3 separate regions of the Homo sapiens genome follow, and regions 2 and 3 are each linked to region 1. The links come from fine-mapping of genetic effects on gene expression. Tissue or cell type: whole blood. Region 1 holds a variant in brackets; each other region holds the start of a gene. All regions are shown on one strand. Distances are between the middles of the regions.

What was found. PIP is the estimated chance that this variant, and not a neighbour inherited with it, causes the effect.
Region 2: it holds the start of TBC1D30, and the variant in region 1 is fine-mapped to the expression of TBC1D30 in whole blood (TOPMed, PIP above 0.99).
Region 3: GNS starts here. The variant in region 1 is fine-mapped to the expression of GNS in whole blood (TOPMed, PIP above 0.99).

What each region holds. Positions count from the first base shown.
Region 1 is chr12:64,698,413-64,706,517 of GRCh38, forward strand. No RefSeq gene overlaps it. Among named protein-coding and RNA genes, the nearest start is that of GNS, 57 kb to the right of the region's middle. The variant C/T (reference allele first, on the strand shown) is at 3,412.
Region 2 is chr12:64,820,763-64,828,867 of GRCh38, forward strand. It overlaps TBC1D30 (TBC1 domain family member 30), which reads left to right and starts at 3,885. Exons shown (of 12, transcript NM_015279.2): 1 at 3,885-4,271; 2 at 7,073-7,134; 3 at 7,682-7,747. The coding sequence starts at 4,118. RefSeq lists a silencer at 3,705-3,944 and enhancers at 4,583-5,090, 6,768-6,817.
Region 3 is chr12:64,755,216-64,763,320 of GRCh38, forward strand. GNS (glucosamine (N-acetyl)-6-sulfatase) reads right to left here and starts at 4,191. Exons shown (of 14, transcript NM_002076.4): 1 at 3,870-4,191. The coding sequence starts at 4,061. LOC124903113 (small nucleolar RNA U13) reads right to left here and starts at 5,758; the gene lies at 5,653-5,758. It also overlaps a transcript of TBC1D30 not described here. RefSeq lists an enhancer at 2,737-3,617.

The sequences.
Region 1 (8,105 bases):
AATTTTTATATTTTTATCCTTTATTTTTTTTGGAGATGGAGTCTCAATGTGCCACCCAGGCTAGAGTGCAGTGGCATGATCTTGGCTCACTGTAACCTCCACCTCCCAGGTTCAAGCGATTCTCCTGCCTCAGCCTCCCTAGTAGCTGGGATTACAGGTGCCTGCCACCATACCCGACTAATTTTTTTTTTTGTATTTTTAGTAGCGACGGGGTTTCTCCACGTTGGCTAGGCTGGTCTCAAACTCCTGACCTCAAGTGACCAACACACCTCAGCCTCCCAAAGTGCTGGGATTACAGGTAGGACTTTTTTTTTTAAGTCAATTTTTATTACTAAAAAAAAACCTTTTTTTTTGAGATAGAGTTTCACTCTGTCTCCCAGGCTGGAGTGCAGTGGCACGATCTGGGCTCACTGCAACCTCTACCTCCTAGGTTCAAGCAATTGTCCTGCCTCAGCCTCTGGAGTAGATGGGATTACAGGCGTGTGCCACCACACCTGGCTAATTTTTGTATTTTTAGTAAAGACGGGGTTTCACCCTGTTGGCCAAGGTGGTCTCAAACTCCTGACCTCAGGTAATCTGCCGGCCTTGGCCTCCCAGAGTGCTGGGATTACAGGTGTGAGCCACCGTGCCTGGCTCACATGAATATTTATTGAAACAACAGTTATCAGTTGGTGACAAATTCGGAGACACTGTCAGATAACGCTAATTAGGTATTTTGTTTTATTGAAAGAAGGGGGCTGGGCGCGGTGGCTCATGCCTGTAATCCCAGCATTTTGGGAGGCCGAGGTGGGCAGATCATGAGGTCAGGAGTTTGAGACCAGCCTGACCAAACATGGTGAAACCCCGTTTCTACTAAAAATACAAAAATTAGCTGGGCGTGGTGGCGCACACCTGTAATCCCAGCTACTCAGGAGGCTGAGGCAGGAGAATTGCTTGAGCCAGGGAGGCGGAGGTTGCAGTGAGCCGAGATCGCCCCATTGCACTTAGCCTGGGCGACAAAGTGAAACTCCGTCTCAAAAAAAAAAAAAAAGAAAAGGGGCCAGGCACAGTGGCTCATGCCTGTAATCCCAGCACTCTGGGAGGCCAAGGCGGGCTGATCTCTTGAGGCCAGGAGTTCAAGACCAGGTTGGCCAACATGGCAAAACCTCTTCTCTGCTAAAAATATAAAAATTAGCCAGGCGTGGTGGCACACGACTGCTGTCTCAGCTACTCAAGAGGCTGAGGCAGGAGAATTGCTTGAACCCGGGAGGCGGGGTTCAAGCCCCGTGATTGCGCCACTGTACTCCAGTGAGCCGTGAGTACTGCAGTGAGCCATGATTGCGCCACTGTACTCCAGCCTGGGCAACAGAGCAAGACTCTATCTCAAAAAAAAAAAAAAAAAAAAAAAGGGTGGTGGTGAAGGTCTACACTATAGTAGCCAATGCCAACAAAGTGCTTACCATGTGCTAGGCATTCTTCTGAAATGCTTAATATGTATCAACTCATTGACTCTCCTGTGACGTTATCACACTATTTCGTCATATCCCTTTTTTCACAAATGTGGAAATGGACATGTTGAGGTTTAGCAGCTTGCTCAAGGCCACTGTGTGAGTGAGTGGCAGAGCCGGACACTGCCCCGTTTCTCTACCATCTTTTCCTGTAAGTGCTCTCTAGTTTCTCAGTTAAATTGCCTATTGAGTAAAGGAGCAAAAGTCTGTTAAATTGCCGTAATGGACAGTTTGCCCAGAAGCGTAACTGTTTTGGTGCCATTGGGGTTTGTTGATATCAGTGTGTTCTCATCCATTTTGGTTCATTTATCATTTCATTCAGGTGATTATACTAAGTCACATAGAATGAAATGCTGACCTGTGCTTTCTTTTTATTTTTTCGGATGGGGTTTCACCTTGTCATCCAGGCTGGAATGTAGTGGCGTGATTACGGCTCACTGCAGCCTTAACCTCCTGGGCTTAAGAGATCCTCCCATCTCAGCCTCTCAAGTAGCTGGGACAACAGGTGCCTGCCACCACATCCAGCTAATTTTTTTTCATTTTTGTAAAGATGGAGTCAGGCTATATTACCCACGCTGGTCTCAAACTCCTGGGCTTAAGTGATCCTCCTGCTTTGGCCTCCTAAAGGGCTGGGATTACAACCACCATGCCCAGCCCAGACCTGTATTTTCATTTAGAGGTTCTGTTGCATGGGGGAAATAACACGGCAGGTAACCAAACTTAGTGGTCTCACTGTAGTTGGTAAGACAATTCTCCTGGAACCACCAGAAGAACAGCTTCAGTACTACAGAGTGCTATAGGAGCCACAAAACTTGTGCAAAGGTTTGACTCATGGAACCATTCCCCCAAACAAGGCTCATCCTCTGCAGAGAGAAACTAGGAGGTAAGTATTCAAAGTCTAAAGCATATGCTTGTGTGGTGTGAATCACTACTTGCTTAATTGAATGTTCAAGAAAGAAGTTTTATATAAGGATAAAGGTGGGGGGGCAGGTGTGGTGAAGGCTGGAATAGGAGGGAGTGGGGACTAGCTGGGTTATATACCAACAACTCTGAAGCTAAATCATTTATTCCATCTTCAGGCTTGGATCTGGGTTTGGGTTTTTGTTTTTTGTCTTTTGGGGTTTTTTTGCCTGTTGGTTTTGGTTTCATTTTGTTTTGTTTTTTGACAAGTCTTTCCCTATTCCAGGAGATGAGAATAGCAGGGTACAGGATAGACCCCTTTGATCTTAAATAGTGTTTCCAAAGGATGATTGTGGTTCTCACGTGTCTGGCTGAGGCTGCATTTGGCATCAAGTGAACTCTGAAAGCTCCTCTCTTCTTCTTGTTTCTGAGAAATGTGAGCACCTTTAAGTATTATTTACGCACAAACAACAAAACATCAGGGCTCTTTGTAAACCTCAAAAGAAATTGGGATTTGACTTTGTTTTGGGGAGGGAGTTATTTCAATCAGGAGAGTTCATTTTTTTCTCTTTCTAAACGAGGAGTTCCGATTACAATGGGCCTGGGTCATTAAGGGCATCTATCTGGTTTGTGTTTGCTGGCATATGTACTGCCGGCTGTTGAGCCACGCTTTGTGGACACGTGGGATTCATTAAGCCCTCTGTGGTTCCTGTCTCTGAAGTGGCTTTCTAGGGAGGCTCTGCTCTACAGGGTTTTTCCATTTACAGGTGCAATAAAATTTGTTTAAATTCTAAAAATTCTGAAGCAGCAAACTTTAGTGCCTTGCCAAAACTTAGAATTCTTGAATTACTGCTGTTGCAGGCAGGGAGGCAACAGCTTAAATTCAAACCTTTTACTCAGAACTATAAATGGTGTCTTCAGATTCTTTTAAAGATGGTGAACATTTCAAACATTTTTCTTGCATATGTGATCTTTGCAAGGAAAACATTCATAGTCAATTTTGTTTAGGTCAGATTGAGTATTT[C/T]GAGGCCTTATTAATAAAAGATGCTTGACTGAGCAGGTAAGGCCAACCATAGAAACTGAGGAACAAAAAGACCAGCTTTCAGAAAACTTCCAGTTCTTTTTTTTTTTTTTTCTGAGACAGAGTCTCACTCTTGCGCCCAGGCTGGAGTGCAGTGGCTCGGTCTTGGCTCACTGCAGCCTGCGCCTCCCAAGTTCAAGCGATTCTCCTGACTCAACCTCCCAAGTAGCTGGGATTACAGGCACCCACCACCACGCCCAGCTAATTTTTGTATTTTTAGTAGAGACAGGGTTTCACCATGTTGGCCAGGCTGGTCTTGAACTGCTAACTTCAGGTGATCCACCCGCCTCGGCCTCCCAAAGTGCTGCGATTACAGAGGTGAGCCACTGTGCCCAGCCATCAGAAAACTTCCAGTTCTATCGCCTTTATCTAGATACAGTTTGTATAGGAGTTTGTGTGTGCTGGGGAAGGAAGTGGGCTTTAAGGGTGTAGTGGTGTTGGGGAGGCCAGAAATAATGTCCCCTTTATCATGGAAAGTTATTTGTTATGAAGGTGGTAGTTAGGAAAAGGCAACGTTTAGGATCTTTCGGAAGATATTTCAAGACAAAATGAGGTTACCACACTATTTCTTCACAGACTGCCTTCGGAACTGTGGAAGGTGCTGAATTTTGTTTTTTCGAGGTAGGTCTTGCTCTGTTACACAGTAGCATGATCATAGCTCACTGAAGCCTCTAGTTTCTAGGCTCAAGCAATCATCCCACCTCAGCCTCCCAAGTAGCTGGGACTAGAGGGGCATGCCACCATGCCCAGCAAATTTTTTAATTTTTTTGTAGAGATGAGGTCTGGCTATGTTGCCCAGGCTGGTCTCGAAATCCTGGCCTCATGATCTTTCTGTCTTGACCTCTCAAGACACTAGGATTATAGGTGTAAGCCACTGCCCAGGCTGATTTTTTAAAGGCAGATTTTTCTGTTCATTGACTCTGAAGCTACTTAATCTGAATCTCTGGTACTGGCCCCTGAGAATCTGCCATTTTAATAAGTGCCCCCTATTTTTTCAAATGCTGACTGCAAATCCTAGAGCTCTACAGAGGGTTTCTGGGGCTGAAGGGATACATCATTGTGCACAGAGTATTTCCCTCATACCCCTTGTTTTGAAATTTTAAATAAATTACTTCCAAATTGAGAGTAATGACTAGCCTGCAAAGAGGCTTTCTGACCTGCCTCACTTAGCCCTGGAAAGGACAATTCTATATACCCTGTTCCCCTGGACCATGGCTAATTGGATCTTAGACCTCTGTTGAAAGGCCATTGATCAACTAGATTTTCTCAAAATTTTATTTATTTATTTATTTATTTATTTATTTATTTATTTAGAGACAGAGTCTCGCTCTGTTGCCCAGGCTGGTGTGCAGTGGCATGATCTTGGCTCACTGCAGCCTCCACCTCCCGGGTTCAAGTGATTCTTGGGCCTTACCCTCCCAATTAGCTGAGATTACAGGTGCCCACCACCACACCTGGCAGATTTTTTTTTTTTTTTTAGTAGGGATGGCGTTTCGCCATGTTGGCCAGCCTGGTCTCAAACTCCTGGCCTCAGGTGATCTGCTCGCCTCGGCCTCCCAAAGTGCTGGGATTACATGCATGAGCCACCGTGCCGGCCATAGCGAAACTTGTGGCCAGCTACTTGGGAGACTGAGACAGGAGAATCTCTTGAACCTAGGAGGCAGAGGTTGCAGTGAGCCGAGATTTTGTCACTGTACTCCAGCCTGGGTGACAGAGTGGGACTCCCTCTCAAAAAAAAAAAAAAAAAAAAAATTACTCTTGTTACTCTTATTCTGTTCTCTCTCTCTACATATATATATATATGTATGTATACATACATATATATATGTATGTATACATACATATATATATGTATGTATACATACATATATATATGTATGTATATAGTGACCTCTATTATCTATTGGCTAGCTTCAAAGAAGCTTGCCAAATGACAAGTGCTGATATTGCTGCTGCAACCAACTTCATAGGTCTTTCAGGAATTTACTGTTTACAAGTGTCTGCAGTATGAAGCTTTAATGCATATGATCTATAATATTCTAACCTAACATTTAAGCTTCCACATTATTGGAAACACAGTCGGGTCTACATGTGGTCTCTTCTTTCCCTCTTTCCCTCCCTCCTTTCTATCTTATTTAATGTCCTTGTATCCTGTGATATCTGTACTCTTTTTTTTTTTTTTTTTTGAGATGGAGTCTTGCTCTGTCGCCCAGGCTGGAGTGCAGTGACACAATCTTGGCTCACTGCAAGCTCTGCCTCCTGGGTTTATGCCATTCTCCTGCCTCAGCCTCCTGAGTAGCTGGGACTACAGGCGCCCGCCACCACGCCCAGCTAATTTTTTTGTATTTTTTTAGTAGAGACAGGGTTTCACTATGTTAGCTAGGATGGTCTCGATCTCCTGACCTTGTGATCTGCCCGCCTCGGCCTCCCAAAATGCTGGGATTACAGGTGTGAGGCACCATCCCGGCCTATTTATTTTTTAATTGAGATGGAGTTTCGCTCTTTTTGCCCAGGCTGGAGTGCAATGGCACCATCTCGGCTCACTGCAACCTCCGCCTCCTGCTTTCAAGTGATTCTCCTGTCTCAGCCTCCCAAGTAGCTGGGATTACAGGCATACATCACCACGCCTGGCTAATTTTGTATTTTTAGTAGAGACGGGGGTTTCTCCATGTTGGTCAGGCTGATCTCGAACTCCCGACCTCAGGTGATCTGCCCACCTCGGCCTCCCAAAGTACTGGGATTACAGGCATGAGCCACCACACCTGGCCTGTTTTTATTTTTTATTTTTCAAGTCCGCACTGCCTGGTCCCATGACCCACCCCCTAGAACTGGGTAGATTATGATGAGTGAGAACATCATGAACTCTGTTATGAAAATCAGAGTCCATGTGTAGTGTAAACTGTTAAGTGTCATAGAGATAAAATTCAGTGTACTATGAGTGTATAACAGGAGGACAGAGAAGGCGTCCTTGAGAAAGTGATTTAGAGCTGAGATCTTGAGGAGGAGGAGGAGGGGTTACCTAGAAGAATAACTTACATGAACATGTTCTGCATGGTGGGGACTGGTGTCTGAGGTCTTTCTTTTTGACAGTGTGTTTTATCGGGATTACTCTTGCCGGTTCGCCGCCTCCCCATGGCAAAAACCTCAATTACTTTTGTACCAACCTATAATATTATAAGCAAAGAACTTTAGGCCTAAATAATTCTCCTCATGTTAAGAGTTCATCTTTGGCAAGGGTGGAGTTAAAATTAACAATGGCAGGCCAGGCGCGGTGGCTCCCGCCTGTAATCCCAGCACTTTGGGAGGCTGAGGCGGGAGGATCACCTGAGGTCAGGAGTTCTAGACCAGCCTGGCCAACATGCACCTAGCTGGGCATGGTGGCGCCCAACTCTCAGCTACTTGGGAGACTGAGGCAGGAGAATTGCTTGAACCAGGGAGATGGAGGTTGCTGTGAGCTGAGATCGCATCACTGCACTCCAGCCTGGGCGACAGAGTAGGACTCTGTCCCCGCCGCCCTCCCCCCAGAAAAATTTACAGTGGCAATTGCTCTGGCTCAAACATATTTTTTCCCCTTGTAAAATGGAGAGGATATCACTTGTTTGCCTACCTCACAGGGCTGCTGTGAGGACCAAATTGGGAATGTGCAAGTATCTTGTGCATTGTAATTCCTGGTATAGCGTGAGATGGTATTATTTTCCAACTATTTGTTCCTACAATAATGTGGCTGTTTCAATTCTGGGCCAATGATAGATGCTTATCTCTCATTCTAGAGGCATCCTAGGTGCCAATTTCCAAGATGGACATTTTTCCAAGCAGAAAGGGTTTTGTTTTCTTTTAAAAATTCATGGCCGGGCGTGGTGGCTCACACCTGTAATCCCAGCACTTTGGGAGGCCAAGGTGGGTGGATCGCCTGAGGTCAGGAGTTTGAGACCAGCCTGGCCAACATAGTGAAACCCCATCTCTACTAAAAAAAATACAAAAATTAGCTGGGCGTGGTGGTGAGCACCTGTAATCCCAGCTACTCGGGAAGCTGAGGCAGGAGAATCGCTTGAACCTGGAAGGCGGAGGTTGCAGTGAGCCAAGATTGCGCCATTGGACTCCAGCCTGGGCAACAAGAGCGAAACTCCATCTCAAAAAATAAAATAAGATAAAATAAAAATTCATGCTAAGGGAAGGAAATAGAGTTAAAAGCAAAACATTCAAGATTCTTAGGGTGATTGGTAGGCCAGATTGTTTAGTGCCTTGCCTTGTGCTCCCTAAAAATACAGTCACAAAGTGTTCTTTCTTCCTTGACAAGATAGAGTCCAAATGCTCAGAGCAGCTGAGACTGGGGATGCCCAGGTTTTCATATCAACATAAGGCACAGAGTGGTGTTGCATGATCCAAACCAGACGGCTGTGTGTCGGTGCAGTCGGGGGCCTTGACCTTTGTTTCTAGTCCATGTTTTTATGCATGTAAATTCTCCCCTAGATAGTAATCTCCTTGGAGACTGGACCATATCTTCAGTTCACTTTGCATCTCTCCTAGCTGCAGGGCACAGCATTTGTGGGACTAAACATTTCATAGACATGTCTGGAAACAGCTAGTTGGGCAGCTTTGAGACAGGAAGGTAGCCCTCTACAGAGAGACCCGGAGCT
Region 2 (8,105 bases), 120 kb after region 1:
AAAACTGTGAGTCACACAATCAACATAATACTAGGCTTGGGCCATCGCTGCTTTTAGAGTATTGTGTTTTAGTGCTCATGTAATTATCTGTTTGCTATAAAAGTTGGCAGTCCTGACTTTCCTCTCCAATGTAAACAAAATAATATTATCTAATTCCTTTGCTGTTTATTGCCATCATAGCAGAAACTCTTAAATTTTATTTTAAAAACAGAGTTAGATTTTCCTCGTAATAGATCTAAAAGAGGTGAAATTGAATGTTCCTTTTGCAAGCAAACAAGCTTCTGTCACTACTAGTAAAGAAAAGTATTACAAGTAAAGAAGAATCTAAAGAGAGGTCTTTTTATCAGTCATGACACATGGGTGAGTTGACAGCCTAGAGTCTAGATGTCAGCTTTGGCAGTCTGGAAATTTGGTGTCTTCAGGTTACTGACTGGTAAGTGAACTCAGGGGTATTGACTGCTATTAACTGGTCAGTATATTCTCTGTGCTGCAGCAGAGTCTATATGGGAAATCAAATGACAATCCAAAGTTTGCTTGGTGAGCATGACGTCAGAGCCAAAGGGAGTTGGATGGTCTGAGTGGCATATGTCACAGCCCCAGGGGCAGGACGTCCTCCTCTCCACTCCAGAGACAGTGTTGTAGAACAGAGCTGATTGCTTGTCCTCTTGGCTTGCCTAGTGATGGAAACCGAGCATGAATAGCCTCTCTTGTTAAAATAGAACACAAAACCCTCTAAGATTTGAGCATATGAGAGGTCTGGAAGACGAGACTGTGCATGCAGTTACCAACTTGTCCTGCTGGATTTTCCCTCTCCTGCCAGTTCCCTCTCTTTGACTTCGGGTGTTCATCACCATCTTCAGCCCCAGGGTATACTGTGCCCTCTAAAAAACTGGTCAAAGGGAAGCATCAGACCTCTTCCTATGGCTCTCAGTACAACTGAGATAGGCTGCAACAGCCAATGAGTGTCTTATTAAAATTAATACAAAGCTGAAGGATACAAACATGTACCAAAACTGTAAAAAGTTGATGGTTGATGGAGGATAAATTTCTGTACCGGAGCTCGCAGCAAAAGGTTGGGAAATTTAAGCCAAGCAATTAGTCATGACCAGCTTAAACAGTGACTTCATTTTCTAAAGTGATGCCTTTTCAAAGAGTACTGCCCTTTTGAAAGCATCTTTACCTCTGCCAGGCAGCTACAACTGAATAGCTTGCATGTCCTTTATTAGCCTGCTTTACTTTTGCAGATGGCTCATCTCATTTTTAATAGATTCTTTTACAGCTCATTCTTAGGGTTGCACCATTTCTGACATTGTCCTCAAATTCTGGGAAGCGTCATAGGAATGCCTTCTTTTTCTGGCTTGTTTAGGCTATCTTTATGAAGGCATTTAAAAATATTCAATATTTTTTCAATCAATAGCAGCCATTTTTTTTTCTTTTGATACAGGGTCTTGCTCTCTCACCCAGGCTGGAGTGCAGTGGCCAATCATAGCTCACTGTAACCTTGAATTCCTGGGTTCAAGTGATCCTCCTGCCTCAGCCTCTCAAGTAGCTAGGACTACAGGCATACACTACCACACCTGGCTAAGTTATTTTATTTTTGCAGAAACAGGGTCTTGCTATTTTGCCCAGACTAGTCTTGAACTACTGGCCTCAAGTGATTGTCCCACCTTGGCCTCCCAAAGCACTGGGATTACAGACCTGAGCCACAGCACCTGACCCAGCAATTAATTGCTTTTTGTTTTTGTTTTTACTTCTGAGGCAGGGTCTCACCATCACCCAGGCTGGAGTACAGTGGTGCGATAATGGCTCATTGCAGCCTTGACCTCCCTGGCCTCAGGTGATCCTCCCACCTCAGCCTCCTGAGTAGCTGGGCCTACAGGTGTGTGCCATCATGCCCAGCTAATTTTTGTAGCTTTTTTTTTTTTTTTGTAGAGATGGGGGTTTGCCATGTTGTCCAGGCTCAGCCATTGTTTTTCAAGTTCAAATTGTTTCATCTTTGGCCAATAGGAAGGAGCCTATTTATGTGACTCTTGTGTCTTTTTGACTTGACCCCATTAATTGTGAAACATTTCCTTTCTTTTTGAGCTCATCAAAATGTTTCAGGGTCATCTTGTACTTTTTCTGTCCCAAACCTGGAATCAGTCACTCCTCAAAGGAGCCTTAGTTCCTTTGAGTGGGGAATGGTTTTTAGAGACCATAACCTGGGTGCTGTGGGTGTTCATTGCTGCTGAGTTGTCCTTACTTCTAAACCTATTCAATGAATGTATGTATTTTTTTGAAAAGAAAAAAAAATGAGTTCATACTAGTGTTTCCCATATAAATATATAATTGTAATATTTTAAAGAAAACTTAATTACTTTGGTTATACACATATTTTCTATTACACTGAAAACATCTTGGCTCCATTTGATGTTAGCATACTTATTTATTTGCTTTATCCTGTAGTGGATATAAGAATTTAAGAAATATGAATATTATTAATAACAATAATACTACTGAATGAAATGTAAGGTTTCTTTGCAGTTTTATTTGCTCTGGGAATATGTACAACTGTTGATGTACAGTCATAATATTGTGTTCTATGTCAACTTAAGAGAGAATTATTTTTTTCTGTGTTCTTATGCTATAAGTGGGATAGTCCATTAGGTTGATTTGTTTCCATTAATTTTCAATTGTTAGGGTTTTCTTTTACAATTTAAAAATAATTTATTCATTTATAGTCAGGGACTAGGTCTGTTGCTCAGGCTAGAATGCAGGGGTGCAATCATAGCTCACTGCAGCTTTGAACTCCTAGTTTCAAGACATCCTCCTGCCTTGACTTCCCAAAGTGCTAGGAATACAGGTGTGAGCCACCGTGCCCAGACTATTTTATGTATTTTCAAATTTTATTTTTATTTTTATGTCTTTTTAAGAGATGGGGTCTCGCTATGTTGCCCAAGCTGGCCTCAAACTCTTGGGGCTAAGCAATTTTCCCACCTCAGCCTGCCAAGTAGCTGGGACTATAGGCATGCTGTTCCATCATCCTGGTTTTTTAAAAATTTAATTTGTTAATATTATTAATATAGTGTTATTCCAGAGCCAAAACTACAGGAGGCACATCAAGAGAGGACTCAGTTTTCCATTCTTGTCTCCTCCACGATGTTCCTTCTCCTATACAAGTTTTCTAATTTGTTTTTGGTTTATCCATTTAGTGTTTCTTTTTATAAATATTAGCAAACACAAGTATCTTTATATCCCCCCCCCACACCCTTTCTTTCATCCATTTTAATGGTAAATAGTCTATTGGTGAATATTGCCGTTTGAGAATGACTTTTTTTTTTTTAAACCATAATGATGGGCAATAGTTCAGAACTACTGAAGTCTGGCTGGAGAGATGAGGAACATTACTTTTTAATACTGCTTGAAAAGAGAACACTTTTTTTCTGGAAGCCCATTTTTCTAAAAGAAACAATAATTTTTTTTTCCTTCATTTTCTCCGCGCCTCTCTAATCTGCCAGGAAATAATTCAACGCAATTCGGGCTGAAGCGTGTGCCTCGCCGCCTGCGGTTGGGTCATGGCCCCTTCTGAGACTGCTCGGAAGTGGGAGAGGATGCTTGCCCTTACGGGTGTTCTGCCCCTGAGACTGGCGCCCCTTGGTGCTCCCTCTGTTCCCTCCCAGATCTTGGGAGAAGCACGGACATCTCTGTTTCTGCTTTTGGTCCCCGAACGCAGTTACGCGCCCACTGGCTCCCTGTCTCTGGCGCTTCTGGGCACGGGGGAGCTGGGGCGGCCCCGCCTGCGCACGGCGGTGCCGGGATTGGGGGCGGGCACGCCGCCTCCGTCTCCCACGCGCTCGCTCGCTCGCTCGCTCCCGCCCTCCCCGCCTCGAGCGATCTCCTGCCTCAGCCTTGCAGGCTCCGCACTGCAGATGCCTGCTGGCTTCCCTGCGCTCGGCGGCTCCCGCGGTGCCCCGTAAGTCCCCGTGACCCTCCAGCACCAGCCGGCTGTGCGCTCCCTGCTCCCACGGGCCGGTCAGCCGCAGACACTCACCCAGCTCCGCGAGCTCAGCCGCTCAGCGAGTGGGGTAGCGGGGACCGAGACGGACGGTAGCCGTGCCAGAGCCCGGGGCGCTCTCGGATGCGGCAGGACAAGCTGACCGGGTCTCTGAGGCGCGGGGGGAGATGCCTGAAGCGGCAGGGCGGCGGCGTGGGCACCATCCTGAGCAATGTGCTCAAGAAGCGCAGCTGCATTTCCCGGACCGCGCCCCGGCTGCTGTGCACCCTGGAGCCGGGTGAGGACCCCAGGGCTGCAGATGGGGCGCTGTAAAGTAGCGCCGGGGCTGCCCGCGCTTCTGCCTTAGCCTGACTCCGTCTAGGCCGGGGAGCTCTGGGGAAAGTCCGCGTGCCACCTGGTGCGGGGCACCGCGTTGGCACCTGCAGGGAGCGATTGGTCTGGAAGGGTAGAGGGCAGACGGGGGCCTGGGTGGGGCAGCGGCCACCCCAGGCGCGGAGAACCCGCTGCTTCCACCCTCTCCCCGCGGACCCCCACCCTGCGGCCTGTGTGCTCGGCTTTCTCCGCGTGGCGGGGAAGTGCGGGTGGCTGCCCGGGCCCTCAGAGGCCGCACCACCTATTGTGTTCCAGGCTCGCAGGAAGCCAGACCTTGCGAGAGGTGTGTGGGGGCGGAGAGTGGCACAGGTTTGACACTGCAGGTCGGAGGAGGAAGACAGTGGCTGCAAAGGCAAAATCGGGTGTTATTTTCCCAAGAGTCCCTTCAGCGTGAGTGCCGGGGTCAGCTCGAACTGGAGCCTGTAATTTGTGAGTGCGAGTGGGGAGCAGCAGGAGATCCTTTTCATAGGTGAGGTCCAGGAACGAGCCTGGTCGTGCTAGGCAAGGCCCTTCCCACTGTCAGCCTGTGTTTACCCATCCCTGCTTCTCCAGACTGCATAACTCCGTGTCGGCTCCATCACCCGGCATCCCTCCCCGGGATTTTAAGAGCCTGGCCCTAGCGCGGGCTCCTGGGCACGGAGGTTTCTGGCAAGGAGTGGCTGCAGAGGGAGTTGGCTGTACTCTCACTGGTGCTTGGCGCTCACCTGTTCCCTGGAGTGGCACCGGCTGCGTTCCAGGCGGGTTCACGGTCCCCGGCCCCCGCCCCCCAGCGCCAGCGCCTTGGGGACCTGCTGTAGAGCCGCAGGAGAATCGAGCTGCAGAGTCCCAAAGGGTGGGATGCGGCACTGCCTTTCCCAACCTCGTGGTTTCTTTGTTGTTCTCCCCTAGGAAGTGTCTAGTTGCAGAGGCTGTAGTATTTATTCACCATCTTCCTTTACCTCTTTTTTTTTTCTTTTAAATCTCCTTCCCACGTTAAAAGTAAGTGTTTTGTATTTCTGAATCCGGAATAGCTGTGATTATCAGATGAAACATAAACCTTCTCTCTGCCCGTATTCTGTTAGAAGAAAAGAAAAGTGGGGTGAAAGTGACCTGGTTTAAGCTTTTGCATGCAGGCGGCGAATCAATTTCAGTTAAATCCTCTTGCTCATTTTTGATCATGAGAGGATAGTTGTGGTTTTGGCCAACTAACCCCTGCTGGGTTTCACTATGAGAAGGCAATCGGCATGATGCCCAGCAGGTGCCCCGGAAAAGTCAGAAGAGCATATTGGTCAGACATACAGGGAATCCTTGTAGTGTGGCAAGAATAAGTCAGCGCGGGACCGAATTTCCTGGTCTTTGTTATCAAGCAAACGTCATGATTATACGCTCCTCCATTCAGCACCTCGCGTCCGGACAGCAACCTCACTTGTTTTCAGCGTGCCTTAAAGCGTGCGCTGGGCTGGAAACACTCCCGTGGCCGTTGTTATCACCGTTCTATGTTTGGGCAGGACTTCGTTTAAACCACCTCAGAGAGAGGCGGATCCATGTGGTACTTAATATTCCTTCGGAGAAAAAAAAAACTTATCTATCCAGGCAGAGTATGGTTATGGCCCTGAAGCTTTAAAAAGAAATATCAAGGCATTGATTGGATGCCTGGGATTCTCTGCCACAGCTTACTTTGGAAACCTAGGACCCAACTCAGGAATTTACAGCGCTCTTCCAGGGTTCCAAGAACACCTGCATACTGATATGGGCTTGCAAAAATCAGATACATCTCTTTCCAGCTTCTTGACTCCGTGTATATATATATTTTTTAAAAGACCAGTCTACTTGATTACTTACTATTATTTCATAAATTCTGAAGATTGCTCCTATTCATACCAACCACTAAGAAGTGGAAGTTGTGGAGAAGTTTTTAGTACACCTAATCTACAATCAACAATCTTAGAAACAAAAATGCCATCATTTGACTTTTGAAATTTGTAAAACTTAATGTTATTGATAGTATTTGGCATTTCTTGGTCCTTGAACTTTTGGGCAATAATTCCTTTAAAAAATGGGGCCGGGTGCCGTGGCTCATGTCTGTAATCCTAGCACTTTAGGAGGCTGAGGCAGGTGGATCACTTCAGATCAGGAGTTTCAGATCAGCCTGACCAACATGACGAAACCCTGTTCTACAAAAAATACAAAAATTAGCTGTGCGTGGTAGCACGTGCCTATAATCCCAGCTATTTGGGAGGCTGAGGTGGGAGGATTGCTTAAGCCCAGGAATCCAAGGCTGCATTGTGCTATGATTGTGCCTGTGAATAGCCACTATACTTCAGCCTGGGTGATATATTGAGACTGTATCTCTTAAAAAGAAGAAAAGGAATTGAGACTGAGATAGGTTAGATAAATTGTTTCAGTCTAGGAACCAAGTCGAATGGAGGACTGTATGACTCCAAGCCTGTGGTGTCATTTTTTGTTTTTGTTTTTGCTTTTGTGGTACTCCAGGCATCTATGTAAACCACCGTCATATGTAGTAAGGCACTTTCTATTGCTGTAGGGTATTTTCCTATTTTAAGAATCAATATGCTTACCTTTTGGCAAAATTGACTAAAATTTAGTAAAGATACATACTTTAAAAAAAATTGTGATGATTCAGTAGAATCAAGCTTTTACTAGTATTTTTGATATAACTTGTTATAGTCTCCAAAAATAACATCTATTTATGTATTTTTCTTTCAGGAGTTGATACCAAGTTGAAATTCACTCTTGAGCCATCTTTAGGTCAAAATGGTTTTCAGCAGGTAACTTTGATTTTGAAAACACTCTTCTTTTGGGGTTACCAACAGGGCACATTGAGATATATTCTCAAAGTGGAAATAACGTATTCTTTGATATGAATGTGAAGATGAGTCACTTCAACAATATTTCAGTTAAAGTAGCTTTTGAGCTACAAGTGGCCTGGGTTTATATTTGCAGTGACAAATTTTGCACTTTCTATTAATGGTACATGTGTGAAAAATTTTAAAATGAATAAATTTCACACCTGTACCATAATGTCTTTTATTCTGAACCCCATAATATATATTTTGGCTTATTAACCAGAGCTTCCCAACCATTTTGTTTGTACTGCAAAGGGGTCACAGATGTGTTAAGGGTGCCCAAGGGGTGGGACGTGGCACAGTAATAGCCATGGACTGATCACTTCTGTCTGAAAGAAGCTTTGACTGTTTACCCCATTGTGCTGTGCAAATTTCAGCACATTCTATGAATGTCAAGATGGGAAAAAGATTGCAAAGTGCTTATCTAGGTCACTGTGATCACCTCCTGGGATTTCTTCTTTGTTCCTAGTGGTACGATGCTCTCAAGGCAGTTGCCAGGCTATCCACAGGAATACCAAAGGAATGGAGGAGAAAGGTAAGGAGGACTCATAGGGCTAGAATACAGAAGGATCATCACTGCCCTTCTTTAGAGCCTCTGGAATGTCAAAAAATATATTCTAGGTTTAGTTACTTGAAAACCTGTCTTGATTATTCATTCATGCAATAAATATTTATTGATTATTCTGTGCCAAGTAATGTTCTAGGTTCTAGGGATATAGCAATGGAAAAAAACAAAACAGACCAAAGTTTTTTGTCCTCATGGAGCTTACAATGAATAAAATATAAAGTATGTCAGATGGTAATAAGTGCCATGGATAAAAATAAAGTGTAGAGAGAAATAAAGAGCGTTTAGGAGAAAAGGGGTAAGGAGGTGGAATTTTAAATAGCAAGGT
Region 3 (8,105 bases), 57 kb after region 1:
TTCCATGCACAGTTGCTCTGAAACGACAATTCTGATAATTCTGTGGCTAACAATGGAAATTGTTTTGCTTTCAGTGAAGCAATGACATATTTATTCTCACACCTGTAATCCCACCCCTTTGGGAGGCTGAAGTGGGCGGATCACTTGAGGTCAAGAGTTCAAGATCAGCCTGGCCAACATGGTGAAATCCCGTCTCTACTAGAAATACAAAAATTAGCCGGGCGTGGTGGTGGGTGCCTGTAAACCCAGCTACTTGGGAGGCTGAGACAGGGGAATCTCTTGAACTCAGGAGAAGGAGGTTGCAGTGGGCCGAGATCGCGCCACTGCACTCCAGCCTGGGTGACAGAGCAAGACTCCAACTCAAAAAAAAAAAAAAAATTATTCTTCCCCTACCTTTCATCATAGTTTCTTCTTTCACTTGCCTGTGGTTTTGGCCAAATGTCACTTTTCTTAGAGTAAATGATTTTTTTTTTTTTTTTTTGAGATGGAGTCTTGCTCTGTCACCCAGGCTAGAGTGCGGTGGCACAATCTCAGCTCACTGCAACCTCCACCTCCTGGGTTCAAGTGATTCTCCCACCTCAGCCTCCCGAGTAGCTGGGACTACAGGCACGCACCACCATGCCCGGCCAATTTTTGTATTTTAGGGTTTCGCCATGCTGGCCAGGCTGGTCCTGAACTCCTGACCTCGTGATCTGTCCACCTCGGCCTCCCAAAGTGCTAGGATTACAGGCGTGAGCCACCGCGCCCGGCCATGAATTATTTTTAAAAGAGCAGCTTATGCTTCTGTGAAGAACAGTGTGTCCACCACACTATAATGATGTTTAAATAAAATCAAGAAAGTGATAAGAACAGTGTCCTGGCAAAATAAAAAATAAAAACAGAGTCCCACAGATACCTGGAACAAATACAATGAAATGTTAAAGACGATGCTACTATATAAAAGAGCATTTCAAAGATGCCTGAAAAATTCCACTATAAATCTAAATCATGTTGTAAATGCTATATACAATCCTTTGACCTGAGTGAGATTGGTGGGGGTTAACCACTATTTATTTTGCCAACTATGGCAGCAATCTGTAATCTTTTTTAGGTTAGAGCTCTTTCCACAAAAATGAAGATATTATACACAAAGTTTTACATGTAAATTAAGGAGTTCCATGATGTCACTGGCATCCCCGAATGTCACCTGCAGACTCTCTGACCTATGGTGTGATTATGCTGGTGTGGGTATGTGGAATGAAATCTGATTATTATCACAGTATTCTAGAATAGGAGAAAAAGCATGGTGATCTGAGGTCATAAGATACCCAGGCTTTGTCCAATATTAGCTATATGAACTTAGTCATGTCACTTAACCACCTTCCAGTTTTAGTTTCCTTTTAAGATAAGGATACTATGTACAGCAGAGGACTCCTGTGATGACTGAAGCACAAGTATAAAAATCCTCATACTCTGCTCGGCTCCAAGTAAGTTCTCAAATGCTCTTGTCCTAGCTCTTCCCCTTGGAGTCCTGTTTGACAATTAGTGGTAGAATATTCTGAAAAAGCCTAGAAGAGAAGCCAGAATTCTTGAGTTTGGAACATTAAGTTTGACTTATGCCCTCCACTCAATTTTGGTACCTCTCTCCAGTAGAAACACTTATTAAAAAAAAGAATCTGGGCCGAGACAGTGGCTCATGCCTGTAATCCCAGCACTTTGGGAGGCTGAGGTCCAGGAGTTCAAGAGTTCAGGAGTTCAAGAGTTACTTGAGTCCAGGAGTTCAAGACCGACTTGGGCAACATGGAGAAATCCTGTCTTTACAAAATATTTAAAAATTAGCTGGACGTAGTGACATGTGCCTGTAGTTCCAGCTACTAGGGAGACTGAGGCAGGAGGACTGCTTGAGACTAGGAGTTCAAGGCTGCAATGAGCCTTGATTGTACCACTGCACTCCAGCCTGGATGACAGAGCAAGACCCTGACTCAAAAAATCTGCTACTGGCTTAACGAAGCAAATTGGATTAACATACTAAAGAGACCTCAAATACACACAGACTACAGCTGTGGTTTATAAGAATTGAAGAAACAACTCTGAATACCTTATATTTAAGTAATCAATTTTGTTTTCAACACCTAAAAAAGCCTGACCTTTTAACTGAGTACTTAAGTCACTGCTAGAGAAGGCTTGCTTTTTCTGGACAAAACACTCTTCAAGGACACATTTTCTTTTTTTTAATAAAAAAGGAATTTTGTGAGCAGACAAGTAAGTGCAGTAGTTGGAAGAGTAGTGAACCTAAAGTGTAGGAGGAAAATTAAATTAAGACCAATGTCAACATGGCTTGGTAGAAACTAACAGACAATGAAGCATATATGGCAGGAAGAAATGTGTAGTCAAAATGCAAGCCTCTTAAAACATCAGCTATAAAAGACTCTCAAGCTCTTGAGCATCAACCTAAGAAATATATTTTACAACTCGGGAAGAAAGAGAGATAGATAATGATTACCTTTATCAAGTGTAACACACACACTCACACACATGGACCTTTTCTATTCTATTCTATTCCAGAGGAAATAAAAAATGTTGGTAGTTACTCACTAAACTGATTTCATAACTCACTCAAGGGTTGGGACCAGAGGTTTGAAGGACACTGAGCTAGGGTGTGTAACTACACAAGAAAAGTTAGGAACGTCTTGCCTGGAGTATTTCATAGTCTCAGCATTCAGCTGAAAGCAAAAAGAGAACTGAAACGAAGAAAGCAATAAAGCATTTGGTTTTAAAGCGAAGAGAGGAATGCTGAACCCAGGGTCAGAGGACTCTGCCTCAACTACTCATGTCTTGGGCAAGTTGCTTTCTGGGCCTCCATGGGGAAGGGGTTGGAGTGGATGTTTCCAAAGGTCACACATTCCATAATTCTGCAATACACAAGCAAAATTTACTCTGGAAAAAAAATGAAGTCTTGTGACAACACCCATTAGATAGAAAATGAAACACTGACAGTCTCTAATGCAACAGTCAGGTGTTCAATCACACTAATTGAATTTTCTTGATTCTTGTGAGGCAACACACACCCTCAATAGTTCGACGGTCGGCCTACCAGATTAGTTCACTTCAGGCCTTTTTTTTTTTTTTTTTTTTTTTTTTTTTTTGGAGACGGAGTCTCGCTCTGTCGCCAGGCTGGAATGCAGTGGCGCGATCTCGGCTCACTGCAACTGCTGCCTCCCGGGTTCAAGCGATTCTCCTTCCTCAGCCTCCCAAGTAGCTGGGACTACAGCTGCGCGCCACCACGCCCAGCTAGAATTATTGTATTTCTAGTAGAGACGGGGTTTCACCATGTTGGCCAGGATGGTCTCGATCTCTTGACCTTCTGATCCGCCCGCCTCGGCCTCCCAAAGTGCTGGGATTACATGAGTGACACACCGCGCCCGGCCCAGGCTTATTTTTATTGACATCAGATACAGACATTGTATACAGGCACAAACGTGGAGGTGGTCTAGGTCCCTCATAAAGGGGACTGGACTTGTCTGTGATCCTCTAATCCAAAAGAAAAACAATCAGGCCTTGAGTGCTCTTAGACAGCACCTGATCCTCATTGGTTCAACCCATCCTCCACTGGTCTCCACATGTTTATCTTGAGATATTAACGTAAACTCCACAGCAGTACGGTCCAGACTAGAAGCTCTGTGTGCTGTACGCATGTGCCTCAATCCAGAAAGGAAAAGAGTATTGCAGTCCCTTACACCGGCATAAAGGGCCTCAGGTGGGAAAACCAAACCTACCCAAGGATAAGACAGCCAGTTCGGGGAGGAGGGTGGTGGGGACCGGGAAAGAGAGCAACAAACCGGGTAGTCAGCCCAAGAGATAGAGGGGCGGGGCAGAAACAGAAGAGTTACCATGCCGCCGAGCACTTCGTCCTGGTCGTCCGTGAGGAGCAGCACCACGTTGGGCCTCCGGGTTCCCGCAGCCACCCCGAAGACCCCCAGGCAGCCGCCCAGCACCAGCAGTAGCAGCGCTGGGCTGCAGGAGGGCAGGTGGCGGGGGCTGCCCCGCCGGAGCCGACCTGGGGCTAGAGGCAGGAGCCGCATAGCGGACAGGCTCCGGGGTGACCCCGGGACGGGACGGGACGGAGGGACGCACAGGTAGCTGAAGGGCGAGAGGCCGACCAGCCGAAGGAATAAAAAGCCGTGCCTTGAAGGCCGGTGGCTGGAGTCAGACGTTTTCTCCCTAGGCGCGATCACGTGAGCCAGGGACAGGGGGCGGAGCACGCTGCGCGGTCACGTGACGGCCGGCGTGGGCGGGGCTGCGGACTGGCGCAGCCTGGAGGGAGGCATCAGGCAGTGGCGGAAAAGGGGCGGAGAACCGGAGAAAAGGGCGGAGAACCGGAGAAAAGGGCGGAGAACCGGAGAAAAGGGCGGAGAACCGGGAAAAGGGCGGAGAACCGGGAAAAGGTCAAGACCTGTACGTACCTCTCGCGCAGGCTCGGGTTGCGTTCTGGTAGGACGTACGTGTTTCTGAGCGCTTGGTGGAAAGATTTAAATGGGGGGAAGAGAAGATGAAAAGCAGGAAAGAGTTGGCAAATACTAACCAACCGATAAAGGAAGAGAAAGGAGGACTGTACATAACAGAAATTATCATCAGCTGGTGAGGAAAGTGGACTCTACCATATTTAATCCCCAAGTCGACGGGCACTTATTCAAGGCCCGGATGTTTAATCGTTTTTAATTTTCTCTACAACTTGTGAGATAAATCTTAACATTCTCATTTGGCTCAGACATTAAATTCGGAACTGGTTAGCTCTCTTAACTCCAAAGCCTAATTATGTTCTTCTTTCCTCAGCAGACATCGTAGTTTCAAACAATTTAGGGATGTCCTGACAGCTTTATCCTAATGGTTATCCTAATGGTCCTTGGTGACTTTTTAAACACCCTCTTGGAACATGTTGGAGGATGTGCAGATCGAACAAAAATCTTGAAACGTGGTCATCCAACTGCATTATTAAGTAATCTTTAGCGGGGAATAGCCCTTGAAACTAGCTCCAGATATTTCTGTGGTCGCTCTGGAATAATTAGACTTTGCCCCTCTCCTCTCACCGCCCACCGTGGGCGCGGTGGCTCACGCTTGTAATCCCAGCACTTTGGGAGGCGGGTGGATCACCTGAGGTCAGGAGTTTTAGACCAGCCTGGCCAACGTGGGGAAACCCCGTCTCTACTAAAATACAAAAATTAGCTGGGCGTGGTGGCAGGCGCCTGTAATCCCAGCTACTCGGGAGGCTGAGGCATGAGAATCGCTTGAACCCGGGAGGCGGAGCTTGCAGTGAGCCACTGCACTCTGGCCTCAGGGACAGAGCGAGACTCTTGTCTCAAAACAAACAAACAAACAAAAAATCACAGAGATATTCCTGGCAAGGTGAACTGTCAAGTCACATCCCCAGACCGATATAACAAGGTATACCTCCTTGCTGGTAAAAGTATTTTCTCTGAGTTGAACTGTTTGCCAAGAAGAGTCTCTTAAAACTCGTGAAAACTATTCCAGAACTTAAAGTATTAAAAAAAAAAACTCGTGAAAACACTATACTATAAGGTAAAAATAATGATGGAAACACGTTGAAACCTGATGTGTACAAGGATAGGGCTTATGCAAAAAAAAAAAAATTACCTTTATTACTTTGTTTTTTTCACACAGAGGGGTAATGCGCGGAGTCCTAACAAGGTTTGAGGTAGGGGTGGTAACTCACACAATAGCATGAAAACCCAATCATCAGGCTTATGAACCACAAAAGGATCTTAATACTTTTTTTTTTTAAGTAAGCCTACAGAAGGCAAAAGAAGCTTTAAAAAAACTGAAGTAGTTTTTCTGCAAGAAACAATTATGCCGGAAGTGTGGTCAGAGCAGTTCCTAGACAACCAGAATACTTGGTTACAGCCTTGGCCTAGGCCAATTTTTCAAGCTGGTTAGAATAACTAATCCTTCTGTATTCAGGTTTCAAGACTTCCAGGAAGACTTTCTTGCACAAAAAAATAACCTATTTCATCTGTATCGAAGCCCCAAATTGTAAAATTGTTTCTTTTCTATTTTTTTCAAGGTTAGATTATAAACTATTTGAGGCCAGAAATTGTGTAATTAGTTGCCCACTTTGTTCAGGATGCTGCTGTCAGAGGCGATTGAACCAGAGCAACTCCATCTTGAAAAGGGGCTGAGTAAAATAAGCCTGAGGCCTGCTATGCTGCATTCCCAGATGGTTATGCATTCTAAGTCACAGGATGAGATAGGAGGTCATAAAGATACAAGATACAAGATGCATGTCATAAAGACCTTACTGATGAAACAGGTAGCAGTAAAGAAGCCGACTAAAACCCACCAAAACCAAGATGGTGATGAAAGTGACCTCTGGTCGTCCTCACTGCTAAATTCCCACCCAGCGCCATGACAGTTTACAAACGCCATGGGAATGTCAGGAAGGTACCCTCTCTGGTCTAAAAAGGGGAGGCATGAATAATCCATCCCTTGTTTAGCATATCATCAAGAAATAACCATAAAAATGGGCAACGAGTAGCCCTCGGGCTGCTCTGCCTATGGAGTAGCCATTCTTTTATTCCTCTACTTTCTTAATAAACTTTCTTTCACTTTACTCTATGGTCTTGTCCTGAATTCTTCCTTGCTCGAGATCCAAGAACCCTTTCTTGATGTCTGGATCAGGACCCCTTTCCGGTAACACTGCTACACTAGTGCTGAAGAGACATTGTCCCTCGTTCATGGAATTTGCAGTCTAATGGCAGAGAGATGGACAATCTAATCTTGTATCTTGTATATGATTACAAATAGACATGCTATGAAGGAAAAGTAAAGGGTGCAATGAGCATTTAAGGTGGTGGGAGGCTGATTTAGTCTAAGGTGCCCTGAGGAAGTGATCTTTGAGTGAAATCTGAAGTTTGAGTAGGAGATAATTTGTTAATGGAGTATTGGGGTGGTGGAATGTCTCCTAAGCACAGAGTACAGCATATGCAAAGGTTCTGAGCTGGTGCATTGCAATAACTAAAAGAAGCCAGTGTGGTTAGAGCAGAGGGAGAGAGGTGGTGAGGACCCAGATCCTATTTTAAGGACTTGGGTTTTTATAGTAAGGCTAATTGGAAATTACTGAAAGAATGTAAGATAAATATAATCATACATGAACTTTTAGAAGATCCTTTAGACTGTGGCATGAAGAACAGATTGGAAGAGGACAAGCATGGGTGAGGGTAGACCAATTAGGTAGAGAGAAAAGTGGATAACAGGGACAGATTCAAATTTTGTGGGGCCTGAAGTTTATGTGCATTTGGCGAGTGGAGGCTCCTTAAGAAAAAGAATAACAATTTTAGATACAAAAGTAGGTACACAACTGAATATGTATTTAGACTAAAACAAAATATAACGTTATAAATTTTTAAAAGTTGAAAAATATTACAAATAATGCAAAAATTTAACGTAACATATTTTTATTAAGTAACTGCCAGGCATACTTCTTCATACTTTTTTCCCCTTACATTATATGGCTATGTGCTCTTTAATCATCTCTTCATATGATGTTAGTTTATAATATTTTCTAAAGAAAATAGAAAGATAATTTAGTTTTTTCTCTAGTGTGTTTGATCAGTATTTGCCTTTTATTGGTGATAATTCAGAAAAATTATTTTTCACCTCAGTTCATTATTGGTTTTATATATATGTTTAGTATTTTTGTCAAATTTCAGAAAACTCTATCAAATATCCTCTTAACATAGGCATTTCGTGACATTCTGCATTTTATTTTGTATTATTTTATTTTTTGAGATGGAGTCTTGATCTGTCTGCGCTCTTGGCTCACTGCAACCTCCACGTCCCAGGTTCAAGCAATTCTCCTGCCTCAGCCTCCTGAGTAGCTGGGATTACAGGCATGCGTCACTATGCCCGGCTAATTTTTGTATTTTTAGTAGAGATGGGGTTTCGCCATGTTGGCCAGGCTGGTCTCGAACTCCTGACTTCAGGTGATCTACCCGCCTCAGCCTCCCAAAGTGCTGGGATTATAGGCGTGAGTTTTATGTTATCTTCCTCAATGCTAGTGTGAGATCAAATCGAAAGAAATTTGAATATTTTTCAATGAGTTTATATAATTC